Linked DNA regions of Homo sapiens. The protein of the gene in region 1 binds, or shares a complex with, the protein of each later gene. Links are inferred from orthologs where the notes say so. Each region holds a gene or a part of one and is shown in the gene's direction. Other genes may lie near its edges. The genes, in order: NRP1 and PLXNA4.

The links.
Region 2: the proteins of NRP1 (region 1) and PLXNA4 are in contact, whole or in part, in a cryo-EM structure (PDB 7M0R), measured with the Mus musculus proteins. The link is inferred for Homo sapiens from one-to-one orthologs. Residues at the interface, in NP_032763.2 of Mus musculus: Arg80, Tyr84, Asp126, Tyr127, Glu128; in NP_786926.2 of Mus musculus: Glu272, Lys340, Lys343, Lys345, Leu349.

The regions. Positions count from the first base shown.
Region 1 is NC_000010.11:33,331,539-33,340,587, reverse strand, and holds the start of NRP1 (neuropilin-1 isoform a precursor), read left to right. Parts: upstream 1-5,920; 5' UTR 5,921-6,205; coding exon 6,206-6,278; intron 6,279-9,049. UniProt on the Homo sapiens protein: Cell-surface receptor involved in the development of the cardiovascular system, in angiogenesis, in the formation of certain neuronal circuits and in organogenesis outside the nervous system. Mediates the chemorepulsant activity of semaphorins.
Region 2 is NC_000007.14:132,572,846-132,582,074, reverse strand, and holds the start of PLXNA4 (plexin-A4 isoform 1 precursor), read left to right. Parts: upstream 1-5,604; 5' UTR 5,605-5,653; intron 5,654-9,229. UniProt on the Homo sapiens protein: Coreceptor for SEMA3A. Necessary for signaling by class 3 semaphorins and subsequent remodeling of the cytoskeleton. Plays a role in axon guidance in the developing nervous system. Class 3 semaphorins bind to a complex composed of a neuropilin and a plexin.

The DNA.
Region 1 (9,049 bases):
GTGAAGACATTATTACAAAGAATTATTTGGTTGGGGGGAAACTTTTCCTACCCATCAATAGACACATTCCTTAATGTGCTGTAAATAATGGTTGGAAAATTTTCTTTTTAAAAAAGAACATTTATAGAACACCTACTTTGAGTCACTAAAGCTGAAAGAATACCATTCATATTATATTACTACTTCCTTGTGAGTTAAGCAGATTTTTTTGAGTTTCATGAAAAACTAGCCAATTTTTCTAGGAGAATGCCTTCCATAGAAAATGTGCTCCCAGCTCAAATTTTTAACTTACGAAATTATCAAAACAATAACATGATAACAACAGCTTCTCTGGTCAGCTTAGTCGTCCCCGTCAATTTTTTTCTGCTCTCCAGGCACTTTCGGCTCCTCTCCTCCACTGTCATTCTTACTCAAAGGTACGACTTACTTCACAGAGAAAACCAGAGTAGAGAGAAATTGCCCCCCACACCCACCCACTGAAATGACAAACCTTCTTGTAATCACACCCATCAGCTCCTCTTTCCCCACTGCTATAACAGAGGAGCTGTCCCTCTTCCAACTTACGGTAAATCTGTCCATCTGGGCTGTAGATTGTATCCCTTCCTGCCTTCCCAGGCAATCAACACCCGGATTATCTTTTCAGTAGTTTAATCTCAACATATCCCCCAATACTGGATTCTATCCATTGGCATTCAAGAATGTTCACAAGTACCCTATCTTAAAAGCAAACATAAAATAAAATAAAAAGTCAACCTCCCTCCACATCTCCTCCTTCCAGAGCTATCGTCTGTCTCCTCCCCTTTAGTAGAAACTTCCAGAGAGAATTTTATCTTTATGTGTTCTCTCTCTTTCTTTACCTTCTATTGACTCTTCAGCCCATTGCAATCTGACCTCTAGTCCTGTTCCTCCATCGCTCCACTGAATGACTCTTGGAAGAGTCAATTCTCAGTAACCATGATACCACTAAGTCCAATTGCATTCCAGTCCTCATCCGAGTGGAACTCTTGATGGTGTTCCACTCTTGTCCAGAGCTTCCTTTTAGAAATTCCCCCTCTCCTTGACTTTTATGACAATAGGCTCTCCTGGTTTTCCACCTACCACCCAGCTGCTCATTCTCAAGGTATTTTGTTAGCTCACTGTGACAATCCAGGCTTTAAAGGGTCCTTAACTTCCTATCCTGGGTCTCCTGAAATTTCCTCAGCAATTTTATCCATTCCTTCCACTTTGATTGCCATCATCTACATGTCAGTGACTCACAAACTTAAAATCTCCAATCCAAACATCTCCTCTGAATTCCTAACTCATTTGATTGCCTCAAAGACACCAGAAACTGTACCTAACCCCAATCAAATTCATGATCTTCCTTCCAAATTAGCCTTTTGCTAGTGTCCCTTTGCTTACATGAAGGCAATCGCACCCATCAGTGATGAGGGCCTGAATCTTTGGTAACACCCTCTCCTTCATTGGCTTATCCACCACCATCTGTCCAGTTGGACTTTCTCAATACATCTGGAAAGCATCCTTTTCCAATCTCCACCGCCAGATCCTTGTTGAAGTTCTCCTTTAGATTCTACTATGGTTACTTCAAAACTGGTCTCTTCATTTCTTCCCTTGCTCCGCCCATAACCCATTCTACAGGCAACTGCCAGAGTCATCTAATAAAAATGCAAAATGAAATTACATCCTTTGAGAATAAATTCAACAATTCTTAACTGTTGTGGCCATTGTTTGATATTTTTAAAAATTATTTTTTATTGATTTAAAATTTTAGCTATTTACATAAAACTATGATTAAATATTAAGAGGCAGCCAGTTTTCTATTCTGGTTGTTCAAATTATATTTTAAAGATTGCCCTATTTAAAACAGTCCTTTCAAATTTTGAATATGTTCTCTCTAATGATGTCTCTATTGATTTGAAGAGTGTTTCTGTTGGTTATAATTATTTTAATTTTCCCAATTTAAAAGTAATCCAATGAAGGCAAAATCATTTAATATTATTATCTCAGAAAAATAATACAGTTTTCAAATATGGCTGTAACCTCTACTCTAGCAAATGTTTTGAATCTAGTGTGATTCAAAATTTAGCATTATCTTTCTTCATCTTGTTGGTTAGTAAATATACTGTATCACAAAAACTTCACATTGTAACTTTGTGTTAACGTTTTAGTTGGTAGTCGTTTCTCCAATATTTGAGGAATTTTCAAGGTAACTTTTAAAAGGCTAAAAAGGTAGAATCAGAAAGTGAAGATTCATTTGTTTATTTCCTTCCTTCTCTGTCAGTACAAATCAAGGAGATGGCCAAAAATGAGGCCCAGATGACACCTCTTGCATGACACAGTCACTTGACAGAATAACCACTAATAGGCTTATTTTAAACATTAGTTAATTAAAATTCCAACTTTTAATGTTTTTCCAGTTTCACTTCATCTATTCATACATCTCAAAACTAGGTTAGCTCCTACTAAAAATATGGAGCTTGTATTGCTTTTCTGAAATTTATGGGTTTGATGTTTTCAAAAAACTTGACTAGATATGATGCAGTTTGAACTACCAACCCGAATCTCCATATTGCATGAATCTGAAGTACTTTGAGGGAGTTAGTGGCTCAAATGGCCTTCTGGGAGCAATCGATTTCATCTATTTCTGACAAAGGGATGAGAGCTTGATGAAAGGAATCGAGCAGTTACCATCCAGTCTACTCTTACTGATGGGCCACGGTTCCAATCCGACTCAGGGAGCCCCAGCTGAAGGCCTTATTTCTGCAGCACCTCCTAAGTGGGAGTCCAGGAAACTGGGCTTTGCCCACTCACAGCCTCTGCAGGGCGTTCTGGGGGTGCGGTAGAGGACTCTTCCCTTCCCTGGAACTGGGTCCTACCAAGTCCAGGGATTTGTTCTATCAGGAAGAATAATGTGTTCAAGAGACCAAAATAAAATCAACCCGGGAACACTGCCAAATTCTTCCTCTGCCTATCACTTATTCTCGTATAGAGCCGGCCTGTCTCCACGCTGGGGAATTGCAAAAATCTAAAACTGACCCCTCTCACCACTTAGTGGAATCCAACAGCAAAGGAAAAAGGTTGTTAGCAAGGACAATTTGCTCTGTACCAACCCACTGGCCGGCAATTCTCAATCAGTGCGGTAGGGCTCCATTACCCAGCACTGTGAGTGGAAACTAAGGAGTCTAGAAAAACCTTAGATCAGCTAAGAGCAGAGAAATCAGAGGCAGAACTTAAATATGACATTTCCTTCTGAGTCCATAGTGCATCCCTTATTCACTGGTTGGAGAAAGCTGGCAAAAGCGCTCAGCTGGAGGCAGGCGTTTTCTGTGCGTTGAGGCGCCGGAGGAGCCATTCCCTTCGGGAAAGACAAGGTCGGGGTGGGGGCAGTCGCTCCGGAGTGCACGATCCGGTGGCTTTATTTGCTGGCCTGGCGGGTCTAGGCTGGAAAATGCACACTCAGCAGGGAAAGGGGAAGAGAGATTGGCGGCAGTTTTCTAAAAACAACACAGCTCAAGTCTCCCTCGTGTGCCCCCTCGCTCACCCCGCCGAGGCTCAGAGCTATCCAAACGGGCGCTCCGGAGCGAGCGCGGAGGTCGGGTCCCCCCAGGACGCAGGCGGGCCTCCGAGACTCCAGGCCGCCCCGGCCGCCGCTCCCTCCCGGTTCCCCTTCCCTGTCAACCTGCCAGGTCCTGAGAGGCGCCTCTCCCTCCGAGCCTGGACCGAGGTCGCTCCGGGTCACCCTAAATCTGATGATGCCGCTCGCCCGGCGCAGCCGGGGGCTGGGACTGGCGGGGCTGCACCTGGGGAGGCGGCGACCGCGCGCGGGTAGTAGCCGAGAGCCCAGGCTGCCTCTGCGGCGCTCACTCCCCCGGGGTCTGCGCTGGGCGCGGTCGGCGCCCCCGCCTCGCCTCCCGCCTGCCCGCCTGCCCGGGCGCAGGGCTGCCCATGGCTTCGACAGTGCTCCTTCCGCTCAACTTAGGCATTTAACTCCCAGCCCTTCGGTGCCCACTTCCCACCCCGCGCCTCCCAGGGGTCCGACAGCTGAGAAGAAGGAGGAAACTGGCAGAGGAAAGAGGCGCTCGGGGGGGCCGAGTTTCCAACTTGGCGACTGGGAATCCCGAGGCGCGTGGGGAGGAGAAGACAGGCTTGACCCGGGGCAAGAGAGTGGCGAGTGCGGGCTCCGTGGGTGCACCTCCCACTGGCCCGGGAACGGCCTGCACCCCGAGGGGCGCACGTCACTGCTCCCAGCCCGAGTCGCGAGCGCGCAGTCCTGGCCTGGGGCCCGCGCGCCTTGGGCTTTCTCCCTGCCCGCCCCTTTTTCTTCCGCCAAAACCTTTGACCAGAGTCTCCTTGCCAGCATTCCTACCTCCCTTTGGCCAGCTATTTGTGCCAGGTAGGAATCAGGCTGTACTTTGGCTGTGTGTGTAGACGCCAATCCCCAGGAGGCGTGTGACCTTTTCACCTTACCCACAAACTCCCTGGGAGGTGCCCCGTGGGCACTGACCCTTCTCCGGGGCCTGATCGGTGACCGCAACCTGTTTCTTCCCAGAAATGTCCTTGCTTTTCGCATCTACAAACGCTTCCTGCAGCACTTCTCGGAAAACCCTCGGGGACGGGCCTGGGGGGCATCCAGCGGGCTGGGGGCACGAGCCGCTGTGGGAAGTGGGGGTGGCAGGAGCTCCAGGGCCGGCGTGCACGTTGTCTGTGGCCGGGAGCGGACACTGAGAGGGCGCAGCGAAGAGCACCCCTCCCCCGCCACTCTTTCCCTCCCTCGGGATGCACAGAGAAACGGGGGCCGCCCGACCCCTGATTTCCACACCCCTCCCTAGCACCTGGGCTCCCAGACAAGGTTGGGCGGGGTCGGGCGGCGATTGCCCCCCTGCTTGGAAGGCGCAGCACCTCCCACCCTCCGGTGTTCCCTCTGCCCCAGAGGAACGGGCACCAAATCTCGGGAAACAATGAAGCCTCCGCGGCGCGCAGAGGGCACCCAGCCGCGCGCCCTGATGCGGGCCAGGGAGGCCGCGTGGGGCTGCAGCCCGGCCTCGCCCGCCCAGGCGGTCTGTCTTCGCTTCACACCACAGCGACACTGCTGCCCCTCGCCCGGCTTCGCGGTGCGGCTCCCACTCCAGCCCGGCTTTCCCCTCCTCGCCCTCCAGCTCTGGGCAGGGGCGTCCAGGGGTGCCCCGCTGCTCCCCGCCACAGGTCTCAGGATGGCGCGATGAGGAGTGGCAGGGGGTGACCCTGCGTTCCTCGCCGCCGAGGGCGCGGGCCCCGGGATTTGAAGTTGCGAGAAGCAGCCGCCACCTCCCGGGCGCTCCGCACTGCGCGGCGGCGGGATCTGCGCCTGCAGGAGCTGCCCAGCTCTCCCTCTAGGGGTGCAGAGCGAGCACGCGAGGTGGGCTGGCCAGACCCTGCGGCTGGCACTGACCTCCGCGCCCCTTCCTCCGACGCCCGCACCCACGCGACCGGGGCGCAGACTCCCAGCGCCTTCCTTCCCGCGGAGATCCCTGCAGGGTCTCTGGGAAAGACAGACAGACGGACGGGGAGAGCACTCGGAGGGAAAGTTGTTCCTCCCAGTCTCCTGTCAGGCAATTACAGGCGAGCCCAAGCGGGGAGAGGGGCGGGAGGAAGCGAGGGAAGGGCTCCGGAGTGGGGGGAGGCCGCAGGAGGGGAGGCGGGGGTGCAGTTGGTGAAACTCCTCTGTCTCCCGCTCATCTTTTCATTGCTCGTTCCCCTCCTTCCCGCAGACACCCGGACCTCCCCTGGGCGCCAGCTCCGCGGCTCCAACGGGTCCAGAAACAAGCCGGATTTTTTTTTTTTCTTCCTGGAAATTGGCTTTGGTGTGTGTTGCCCTACCTCCCTCCTCCCCCTCCCACCCACAGCCCCCCCCCGGCCTTTTTTTTTTTTTTTTTTTTTTTTGAGACATGGCCCGGGCAGTGGCTCCTGGAAGAGGAACAAGTGTGGGAAAAGGGAGAGGAAGCCGGAGCTAAATGACAGGATGCAGGCGACTTGAGACACAAAAAGAGAAGCGTTCCTCTCGGATCCAGGCATTGCCTCGCTGCTTTCTTTTCTCCAAGACGGGCTGAGGATTGTACAGCTCTAGGCGGAGTTGGGGCTCTTCGGATCGCTTAGATTCTCCTCTTTGCTGCATTTCCCCCCACGTCCTCGTTCTCCCGCGTCTGCCTGCGGACCCGGAGAAGGGAGAATGGAGAGGGGGCTGCCGCTCCTCTGCGCCGTGCTCGCCCTCGTCCTCGCCCCGGCCGGCGCTTTTCGCAACGGTAAGTGACAGGCAGAGGCGCGGGTGACAGCGGCGCCCCGGCTCCCAGCTGCCCGCCCCGGACCGGGGCTCAGGCGGGGCTTCCCGGGATCAGCCGGGAACAACCGACTCCCGGGCGAAGGAAACTTTTATCTGGGAGGAGAGAAGAAGAAATGAGATCAGGCGGTTTAGAGCAGGAGGATTTCAGGTCTTTGGGCTCCCTCCTGACGTTGATCCTTGGGCTGTGGGGCTTTTCCTTACCTCTGTTACAAGACAGAGCTGTCTACCTTCCCAGATCAGCATGCCAATTATCTTAATAATGTTTCCTCCCAAAGGCAATTAGAAGAGACTCCCTTTCAAAAATCTGATGGCTGTTGAAAGTTAATGAACACTTTACCAGGAGATCTTACTTCCTGGTTCCTTTGCTGCTCCCCTAAGCCGTTTCCTCTGGTGGGTGACGGCCAGAGATATCGGTTTGTGGGTTGATGAAACTCCCTCCCCCGCCTTTGTACACCTTCCGTAATCTGTCTGGAGTATGACTGAAAGTTACATAGTATCAATACAGGAATCTGACATATACAGTGTAAGGCACCAGGATATCTGAAAATCCCTAAGCTAGTTGCAGCTTCCACTTAGCTTTTAAAATCACTCACTGTTAAGTAAATGAAAAACTATACTGGGGTCTAAACAGTACCATGTAACCTAAATAATGTGTTTTAAAATGGGATCTGGTTGTAGGCATGTTTGACTTCACACTGTAAAGTAAGTGCAGGCAAGGGTATGCAATTATCTTTACAGTAAGTCGTCAGCAATTGTTATTAACTAATGATCAAATATTTACTTTTGTCTGGCTTAGATTTCAATCACAGTAATTAGAAGAAAAGAACATCCACTACTTACTGTGGTATATTGTTTTAATAAGAGACCGCAAGTGGAGGGCCTCATACCAACAGGAATTTAAATCACATCTTTATGATGGAAGTTAATCTCTCTAATATGCTTTTTCAAGGTTTTGTGATTTTAGCAATGGATTTCCCTCAGCAGCTACCAAGCAGTATTTTAAGAGATGCTTAAAGCAAAACACATGCAAAAAAAAAAATTATGAACATGGAATTCAGCTTATTAATGAGCCCAAGTTGATGGCATTTTTCTATAATCTGGCAGGAAAGCAAGACACAAAAAATTATGAATGTAGAATTCAATTTATTAATGAACCTGAGCTGGTAGCATCTTTCTATACTCTGGCAGGGAATGAAATAGCATTCTCGTCCAACTGAAAGAGCTCAAATGGTTGGACTAGAAATTATAGTAACCCTGTCCTCCACAACTCTTGAGACTAAATCCATAGTGGGGGTGTTCACAAGATAGATTTGAAGCTCAATGCAAAGAGCTATCAGACTTTAGGTTGTGAACTACACAAATATATATGCAGTACACACACACACACACACACTTCTTAGTTTTCTTAGCAGAAATCTGGGGAATGCTGAAAATCTGGCTTTAGTTGTTGAGCTTTACCAGCAAAAGCCATGTCGCTATGCTTGAAGTGACCAGAGCCAGAAAATGCCTCTGTAACTCAGCAGACCTCTCAAAGCCATGTCCACCTCCTCTGAGTAACCAGTGTCTGCTAAATTAATTCATTAACCTTATTTAGGACTAATGGTCCAGAGTCATTAGAAACTGCTCTTTCTTAATCAACTGCTAGAGAGATTGAACAGAGCCAGGGAGTCTAGCAGTCCACATTATCTTATTACACTGTCACTTTCTCAGAAGTCACAGATTAAAGAGCTCTGGTGTGGTACCAAGTCCACCTAAATGTCTTCTGAAGTGACTCTGTCGAGTGACTAGAACCAGTGCTGTTTTATTTCACTCCTGTAACAGATGCCAGACACTACCATGATGTTTGTCCAGAGCTAGAGGAAACTTAATGAGACGAGGTCACTTTCCAAGTTTTCTGCACATTCAAAATAATGCAAGAGTCTCAGCAGAATCACATAACAGAGTCCAACATGATCATTAGCTGAGATTTTGAACTCCAGTTGCAACATCATTTCTTCCTGGCAAAGCTTACACTTTTACAAGCCAGTGCAAAGGAAACCAGCATAAGACTACCCCCAGTCTAAGGAACAAAGTCAGAAGCACCTAGCGATTGAGAAAAACAATATAACTTATATTGTCTTCTTTTTTTAATTTATGGGAAATGATTTCTGTAATGCATGTAGCTTTATGCATTTTTGATGTGCACTTCATCTTTCATTTCCATTTGACCTGGTTTTCCTGTAATAAAATTCTGTAGATTTATAAATTCATGCTGAGAGCAAAGAATGCCATTCTCTTTCCACAGGGAATCTATTAGATGCAGTGTTAAAATCTACATCTACCATTACTGAAAATTTGTGATTGATAGGCTTATATATTTCACTGTTTTCATACCGTTTCTCTTATATAGTTTATGCACCGAATTTTTATTGCTCAAAATTAAGCATCAATAAATGTGGCAGCATTTCAGGCTGAGGTGCTCCAGTATGAAATCCATCATAAAATGTGACAATGAGAATCTATGCTGAACAATATAGGCAGCCCAGAGACTGGTTTACTTGGTTTATTTGGCTTCACTTGAGCATTTTTGAAATGAAGGCTCAAAACTACTTAGCTCACCTTTCCCAGAATGTGAGAATGTGGGTTACCATATGTGATACCCAGACCTGTGTGGTGGGTTATTTTTCACCCAACATTTAGGTAATTAGAATTAATGCCATGTGGCTATTTACTTTTCCTTCTGCCCCGTTGCTT
Region 2 (9,229 bases), on another chromosome or scaffold:
ACACTGAGGTATTTCTCCTTTCTTGTTGTAGCAAGACATGGCTCTGGCCAGATCTGGGACTCTCTTCTTTCTGGCCAATGGAGTTAAGTCACACCCCCTCCCTCCCTCCATCTCCCCTTACCTCACAATATCCTCTAACTTCTGGTTTCTGCGGTTAAAAAGACAAGTTTTGTTTGTTTGTTTGTTTGTTGTTTTTGTTAGTTGAAAGAGAAGGAAGCATTCTGGAGAGGGGGCAGTGGATGAAAGGGTCTGGGGAGGAAGGGGAGTAAGACTTGGACCATGGGAGGCATGGGAGTTATTTTGGTGCCCAGAGGATCAAGATCCACAGTGTGTGTGTGTGTGTGTAGGAGGAGAGGGGTGTCCTCCCCACCTAAACACCAACCCCCCGGTGTGGCTTGGAAAGCCATGGCACGGCAGCAGAGCTTGCCATGTCCAGCAGTGCAGCCGGGTGGAGGTGCCCTTGCAGAGGGCAACCACAGAGCTGGCAATGCAGAGATGTCCTTCCATCAAATGGCTCATGGGCAGTGGATTTCCAAGAGGGTACTTGTGGTGAATGAAATGGTCAGACTTGTTCCTAAGCACACCCACCAGTGGCGGTCTCTGACATAATGGGAGGAGACAGGGAGGGGTTTTTCAGTGGTGGCCAAAGTTTTATCTGAGCAGAAAAGGCTGGGAGTTGAAATTCGGATGTTAATATCTCTGTGCTGATTTGCACCCACATGCTAGGGAAGCCTGGAACAGTTGGGTCTACTGAGAATACCCAGCCACCAAGTTCAACTTACTAGTAGGCCCTGTGGTGACACAAGGATGTTCCTCCCCTCATCTTCCTTGAAAGGCAGTCACTTCTCCTTTCTGTTTTACTGTTCCATGGTCCAGTCTTGAAGACAGAACCCTTGGCTTAGAGGTCCACTTAGTCCCTTAGGAGACAGATGGAAGAATAAGTTAGTTTGAATGGACTGAGAATCTTGAGAGCTGCTGCCCATCCCTCGAAATGGCAGCATTCAAGGAGGATGCAGATTAAAGGCTGCTGGAGTGTGCTGTGGACATGTGGTGACACATGCAGAAAGCAGGGGCCAGAGGGCACCCTGGCCTCACCTGTGTCACTGCGGAAGGCTCCTCTTGCCTCCTCTGCTGAGCTGTGGGATACTGATGATATTCCTGCTGTCCTGCAGGTGGCGCCACAATTTAGGTTTTTAAGCTGCTGACTGCCTGCCTGTGGTTTTTCTATCCAGTGCAAGGTACAAGACCCAGCCATGGGGGCAGCTCTTGGGGGAAAGAAAATGTCTCTCTAGCACCACCAGGCTCTGGTGATTTATTTAACGAGCAAATCTGGCTTTTATCAACTTAAATAGCAGCACTGTTCCTAGGCTAATAAAATGGTGGTAGCTAAGTGAGGGGAAACTTAAGAGTTTCTTCTCCTCTTTCCTATTAAACTGGTCCTTTTATTCAGCTGTGGGAGATGAACCAATACTTTTTCTGTCTAAACCCAGCAATAAACCCCAACCCAAGTCCCACAGACATAGCTTCTTTAGAAAACAGGACTCTCTGAAGCAATGTGCCATTTAGCTTCTCCCTCTTGTGGCCATGGGTCCAGACAATGACATAACCAGTTTCACGACCAGGCAAGAGGTAGAGGGAGTGACTCACAGAGCCATTGTCAGTAGGGGACACCTAGATGGTCCTACTTGTGTCTCCCTTAGCCCTCACCAAGGGAGAGGGGGTAGAGGAGGTGTGAGAGCCAGAAGATCTTGTACCTAATGCAGAAACACATTTTGAACTGTGGTAAGATGCTGCTTTTGCCTGTGTATTTATTCTTGGGGTGGGGACAAGATAGCAGAAGGCCTACCCTCATTGTATCATTCTATTTGAAAAAAATAAAAAGATACATTCATCTGGAAAGCGACTCTAATTCCCTACATGTGTTTTGTACCTACCTTAGAGTTTCAAAGCACATTAATAAGATGGTATGTCCTTTGAATGTCATTGCAACTCTAAGGGGCGAATGTGTCAGGTGAGAGATGAGGTATCATTGAGAGGACGTGACCCGCTCCAAATTGTAAAGCTGGCCAATGACAGAGCCAGGAGTAGGACATGTGTTTTCTAACTTCCAATGTAGAGGCCCTACTCATCCCACCCCATTCCATTCTCCTAACTTAAGGGAGTCAATCCAATGGGTCATCACTGAAAAAAAAAAATCCTCTACTGCAGCTAATTTGACCCTTTCTACTCCTCCTTCCGATAATATGATAACTGCCCCCTTTGGTATGCCTTTTACCGTGTTATTCAGTGGAAGGCAACCGGGGAAAGGCAATTTGAGATATGGCCCCTGGCCCCATTAACAACGGGAGAGCTCGCTGGGCCCCTCACCTGCCCGTGGCTGGTCCAGCTTTTTGCTGTGTGTCTTCCCTGTCATTTGGCTCTGTTATTACTCTTCAGGCACCACATGGCATTCATTTCTTTGAATGAAAATAAATGACACCACACACTAGGCAGGAGATAAAGAATAATAAACACATTTTATTTGCCACCTCTGGAAAAAAAAAAAAAAAAAGGTCTTTGACTTCCCGTCCATCCATCAGGAAATGGGCCTGGAACTCAAGCCATATTCACACACACACGCACACACACACACACACGCACACACACACAAATACAACCGATATGAGGAGGAAAAAGACAATCAGATTGTATTAAAAATACATGCTAGAATGACTGAGAATTGAGACAGAGTTGTTTTCTCACCTTCCCCCCTTCCTTTCAGCATTTTATGACATACCCTGAAAGCTGAGTGGCCAACAGAAGTTTGAAAGGAGTCTCCCCCGCGCCTTTAATTGAACGATATTCCTTAAGTAACCCATTAGGGACTTTCATGGGGCTATCCGGGCTGTCACTTCTGGAAATGGGCCGTGATGGACCCATGCAGCAATTTTAAAAGGGACACCTAGAAGCAGTGTCAGGATCAGGTGATGCAAACCTTACATGGACCTTGGGGTGACAGGGCCTCCTTGGATTTTGTATCCTCAGTGCCCGGCTGGCCTTGTGCTAATCCCAGTCTTGCAGAGAGAGGCATTTGGCCCTGGGCTTCCTCCACCCTGGAAGGATGTTCAAGAGGCAGTAGCATTGAGTGATTTTGTTATGTGTGTCTCTGGACTTCTGAAACTAACCTGATATTGTGTGCTTTATCTAGAGTCTGGGATTCAGGGTTTCTGGGAAGAGTGGAGTCAGATCAATGTATTCATGTAAGCTTAATAAGATAACTCCTTGCTGCTTTCTGGGCCATGCAAGACTCAGCAGAGAACCAGAGACTAAAAGGGCTCCACGCTGTCTCCTGGAATATCCTTTAACCAAAGAATCAAACATGTGGTTTCCTCCTCATTCTGGCTTGGTTCATCTTCTCATTGGTGAGAGCAAAGTTTCAGCAGGGTCCTCTCTGGGTGGGCCAAGCCTGACCTATATGTGCCGCTCACCTTGGGGCTTGTTTAAGCTGTCATCTCACAGCTCCTTTCAAAGGCTCCCCAATTCACACAACTTCGATTTCTGTGAGAATATAACCCCTATAGGGAGGTATAGGCATTTAAGCCATTATCAGTCATGTCCACCTAATAAGGAGGCTCTGAGATGTTTCGATGGGAGGGACAGTAATGGGCGGGAGTTTCTGGGTGTGAGGACAGTGAAAACTAAAGAAGGGACAGGAGAGAGGAGGCCAAGAGCCATGGGCTCCTTTAGAGGGTCGTCCTTGCTGGTTGCCTATCCCAGGGAATGCTTACTGGACTCTGCTGAAGGTGCCACTTCCCTCAGACTATGGTGGGAGCGGGTATGAGGATGAGGGTGGCATGCACAGAGTTGAGTTAACAGGTGTGGGAATCCCTTCGGTTTCTCTTGGTGGGTGGGCCCATTCCTAGGGGGATCTAGGCAGAGGTTTGGGAGGTAGTGCCACCCACTCCCCATCTTCACTGCCTAAACCAGAGCTACATGGTGATTTCTTTCTTTGGGCTTCAGAAACCACCCTGATGTTGGCATGGTCTGTTCTGGATGTAGTCTAGGATCTAGGGTTTCAGAGAAGAGAGGAGCCAGGAGAGCCGCTCAGTATAAACATGAATGGAAAAGTCAGGTTACCAAGCCAGCTCTGGGGCACTGGCCACTCATGTTCTCTCGTGCGGGCCTTGTGCCCTCAGTGTCCTCGGCCTCCTTGGGTGCCATGTGGGGGTGACTTGGTGGGGTGTTGGGAGGGGTTCTGACTAGCAATGGGTGTATGCCTCAGAGTCAGTGTGCGCTTGTGTCAGCTCTGAGCACCTGAGGGTCCCTCCGACGGCCAGCGCCCAGAGCTGCAAATTCCGAGGCGGCTGAGCGCCTCCCTCTGAGCGCGCGCCGTGCGCTCCGGTCACCCATGTATGCCCCTCTCTCCGCCCCACATCGCCACCGCCAGGGTAGCTCCGTGCGGGCCGAGGGGACCCAGGGGGGTGTCGGCAAACGTTGGTGCGGAGGAGAGCCGGCAAGCCGGGCGGCGGCGGGTGGGAGCATGTAGGGAGGCGCCCCCTGCCCCCTCTGCCGGCCGCTCTCCCTCGCTCTAGATGTCAGCCGCGAGCTCCGAGCCAGCGAGAGCGAGCCAGAGAGGGAGCGGCGGCGGGCGGCGGGCGGCAGGGAGGAGAGGAGGCGAGGCGAGGGAGGGAGGAAGGGAAGCAGGGAGGGCGGGAGGGAGGAGAGGAGGACCCAGAGAGCGCCAGGCAGCTGGAGTTTTTGCAGCGCTTGGCCGGGCTTCAATGCACAGCAGCAGCGAGCCGCGGCGGCAGCAGGCAGCCCGGGAGCTCCGGCGGCGGCCGAGCCAGCGGCGGCCCCGCTCCCTGCCCCCTGCAAACTTTGCGAGCAGCCCGCCCGGGGGGCCGGGGGCGCGCCCGGGAGGCCCGGCTCGGCCCGCGGCCGAGCTCTCCGCCGCCGCAGCGCCAGCCGCCGCAGCCACCACCGCCGCAGCCCCGCGCCTCCCCGGGGAGCAGCCGGCGGCTCCCGCGGCCCCCCAGCCCCGGCCCCAGGGCACTGCCCGGCGAGTGTCTCGGCAAGGGTGGGGGCTGCCGCGGCGCGGCCGGCCGCGGGCTGCCGGGGGGCGGCCGCCGCTACCCAGAGAGGCGCGCAGAGGCGCCGAGAGCGCTCCCCGGCGGGTCCCCCGCGCACTCGCCGCGCCCGGGCAGCGGCCCGACCGGGCGAGCATGGGCGGCGCGGAGTGACGCCGCTGTGCCCGCTTGGCATCAAGGACATTCAGCCCGCGGGGGTGGGGACGAAGGGGGGCAGCCCGGCGTCGCCACCGCAGCCCCCGAGAGCCGCCGCCGCTGCTCGGGCTCCGGGGCTGGGTGGAGGAAAGGGGTGTTCGGAATCGATCCCCATTTTCCGACCTTTTTGTTGGACATTACGCCCACCTTGGACGCCGCAAGAGAAGCTGTCAAGCCCCGCAGGCTCTGATTCGGCGCCCTCCGCGTTCCTCGGCTGCTCCCGGCTTCCCTGTGCCTCGGTGGAGTATTTGCGTTCGGGGCTGGGGCTGGAGGAGGCAGCCACACGCGCGCACACGCACACGTTCAGAGGAGGGCGAGAGGCAGCGGCATAGGCTCCATCTGCAGTGTCAATGCGGCGCTCCCGCTGAAGGAGGGAAACGCGGCGCGTCCAGGTAAGGAGCCGGCCCGCCGGGGAGTGGGGCCGGGCGGGCGGCGAGGGCAGCAAGGTCGGACAGACCTGGGCCGACCCGGGAGTCCTCAGTGTCCCGGAGCCAGCCCGCGGCACACGCACACGCACACACGCAGGCACACACACAGATCCACACCGGCACACACGGCGCTCGCGCACCTGCCCACGTCCCACCTGGACGCCCGCGGAGGTGCAGCGGCCGGAGCAGGGATTTCCCGGGTGTGTTCTCCTCTCACGCTCCTGGACTCAGACTTCTCTTTCCCGGGACTTTCGGGGTGGGATTCTGTGTATTCCCGGCTCTGCCTCCCACCCGGGGAGGTTGAGGGAGCAATTTTTCAGCTCCCAGCCCCTTTCGTCCCTAGCTGGGCTTTAAAATGGGAGAAGTCCTGAGAGGTTTCCGGAGACCTACCCAGTGTCATCGCGGCCCCGTGGCCTTTGGACACCCTGGGATTTCAACGGGAGACAGACCCACAGATATTCGGACGCATATTTGGAGAGAGTGGTGGCCCAGCGCCCGGGGAGGAGGCCAGATAGGCGGTTGGGGCTGCAGTTCTGTAGGGCGGCGCATATGAAACAGACACTGCGTTTCCCCAGTAAGAGGCAGCACAAACGCCTTTCTGAAGCGTGGCACTGCTTCCCCGGGAATGCGCCGAGATTTCAGGCAGAAAGCGGCTTAAAGCATCGCCGCGTATGTTGCTTGTCTAGGGAAGGTACGGGGGTCAGATCCTCCTTAAAAGGTAAGACCTTATTCACAGCCTCAGTGCCTGCTTAGCAGCAAGCAGACAGGACTTGGAGACACAGGACTTGGGTCCCCTCTCACCTCCCTACCCTCCCTGGGCACATGGGGCTGCCTTCCCCGGTGCCTCCGGCTGGCGAACACCTGTCACATGCCTTTCGTGGTGTGTGTCTGAGAAAGAGAACTAGAAGGGGGAAGCACGAGGGATATAGTCCTCCAAAAGAGGAGGCTCCCCTCCCTCACGACCGTGGCGGCACTGCCCACCGGAGAAGGCAAGGCATTCGTGGGTCTGCCAGCGTCCCCCAGAGCCCAAGCCTGCTCCGATTGTAGAATCACTCCCCAGACGCCCGTGCTTTAAGGTCCTATTTCCCGAAAGCATTTTCATTCTTGTTCTCTCTGGCTGGAATTTCACAGGCTGCTCATTTTAACTTTTTCTGGAGGAGGTAGGAAGTGGCTGGGGTTCTAAGAGGCTTTTCCATAGTTCCCTTCTTGGGGTCTAAGAGCAACTAATTTAGGGTCTCAGTTGTCATAGGGAGAAGAACATGAGATCCAAATCAAATTCGGAATTGAATATATATGTACAAGCTCCTGTGTTTCTGGTGCTGTCACTTTGAGGTAGCTTTCTAGGCAACATGATCATATCATTTTCCCACAAAACTGAATAAGCTTGTACCCTCTGTCCAAGATCATGTGTTCAGAGTATCCCACAGACCCACCAGTGGAAAAAATATGTTAGGAGCCTTACAGAACATGATGGAAGAGGAGCAAACATTCTTTTGAACAAGGAGGCCTCAGTGCTAGGCTCAGAATTTGGGTTGTTTTTGTAAATCCTGAAGATAGGGGCTGAATGAAAGGGCTTTTTCAGCACCCTGACTCCGCTATTTCCAAACTTTTTTCAGCTCCTGCAAAGGTCTCTGGCTAGGCTGGGGAGAAGCGCAGACACCCCGGGAGGGAGATTGTATTCCCGCTGTGTGCTGTGTGAGCTGCCCTTTGATTGATTGAAAAGCATAGATGGAATAAAGCAAATCTCTCACAATGGAGAGACCCCAGTAGGGGGAAGAAACCTTATTTGCTTTTTAAGAATGGTGGGCGTGTGCACACACACACCCAATATATATACACACATGCGTTCTCAGAGTCTGGCTAAATGTGGTCAGCTCCCCGCCCCCGCCATGTGTGACAATGGGGTCCACCTCTGTCTTCCGGGCTGTGGAAGAAATGGAACATTTCTCCCCACATGCCCCTTGAGGGCGTGGACAGGCAGATCCCACCTACGCGTACAGCAGCACATGGTTTGCAAAAGAAATAATGAGCTCCAGCAACAGTGGGTGCCTCCCAGGTAAACAGTCCCTCATGGGACCTGGAAGAGGCAAAGGGATAGGGTACAGGATCTTCCTGAAATGTCTGTGTCTTCCCTGTAGACCTCCACTCCTTTCTCTGCTTTCCTCCCTACCCTCTTTCCTTTCTCATGTATTCGCAGCCTCAGGATCCATCATTTTAATGCAAAGCTAGTATCATTATGCTGGTTATAAGCTAAACATCTGGGTTCAGAAAATCTCTGCACTTTCTGCACTTAGCATTAGGTACCAATTTGGTTTCTAGGACAAGGCAGGCATTAATTAACATCTCTGTAAAGCGGAGTATACATTACGTTTTCCTGGCTCTCTTGCCCAGCCCTGGAGCATGCCACGCTGTCATTCACCCTCTCTGCCACTCTTCTGTGCCCTTCCTTTTAAGTTCTCTGAGGTCTTTCTCACTGGGAAGGGAGTCACACTAGAAAAACCCCAGCCATGAATGCTTCTTTTCAGCAGACCCTCGCTGCCTGGTAGACGGTGCTTAAGGCAGCTCTCCTGTGAGCACTAGGCATGGGTCACCTACAAGCTGCTCCTTCTTACCCAATCACGCCTCCCCGGGCTCTCATCTGTCCTCCCAGGACTTCCTCCTGGATGCCCACTGGGACACTGCAGACATTTCTGGAGGACTCCAAGGCAGTCAACTTGTTTCCTTTCTCCTTCTCTGTGCCTTCCTGTCGCCTGCTGCTGCTACTCCCTGCAGACAGGGAAATCTGCACGGCAGAGTCTGCCTACATACACTTGGCCTCGGGATCCTTTTCATCACAATGAGGGCTGCTGGGAATGAAGTGGGGGCTTTCTAGGATGGCAGCAGTCCCGAAGTGGGAGAGAGCTAAAGGGGCTGGGTCATTAACCACTCTTGATTCATAGTTATCATCAGGCTTTGATGCAGAGAAATCGCTGTGGATCTCTCTCCTCCTAGCCAGCTAGGGGGCATTTCTTAGCTGCTTCTCCCCATCCTCACCTAGAGAAGGCATACGCAGACAATGCACATCAGAGACCTGTTGGAGCGGCTCTGTGGTGGGTTACAAGGGGGCGGCAGCAATACAGAAAACACGACCATGATCTTGGCTCTCATTAGACTATGCAACAGATGTGCCAGCGTCTCCTCTCTTCTTATTTGTGTCCAGTGCTACCCAATGTGAAACTGGCTCAGACCCTGGGCTATTGAGTAGGTTCATTTCCCTCCCTTGACACCTCCCTTCCTTTTCCTCCAACCCCCACTTCTCTGCCCCCACCACTTGCTAATCTACCTCTTGGCTTTGTGCGCACATCCGCCAGCCCATTCGCCCTCAAATTTGCGGCACTCCAAGAAATCAATATAACATGAATTTAACGACAGCTGGATGATTAAGTGTTATTTATATTTAAAAGCGGCATTTTAAAAAGACGTCTCACTAATAAATGGCTGTTTGGGAGATGCACATGATTAGGGTAATTGGCCTATAGGCTCTATCGAGCTATGCTTGGT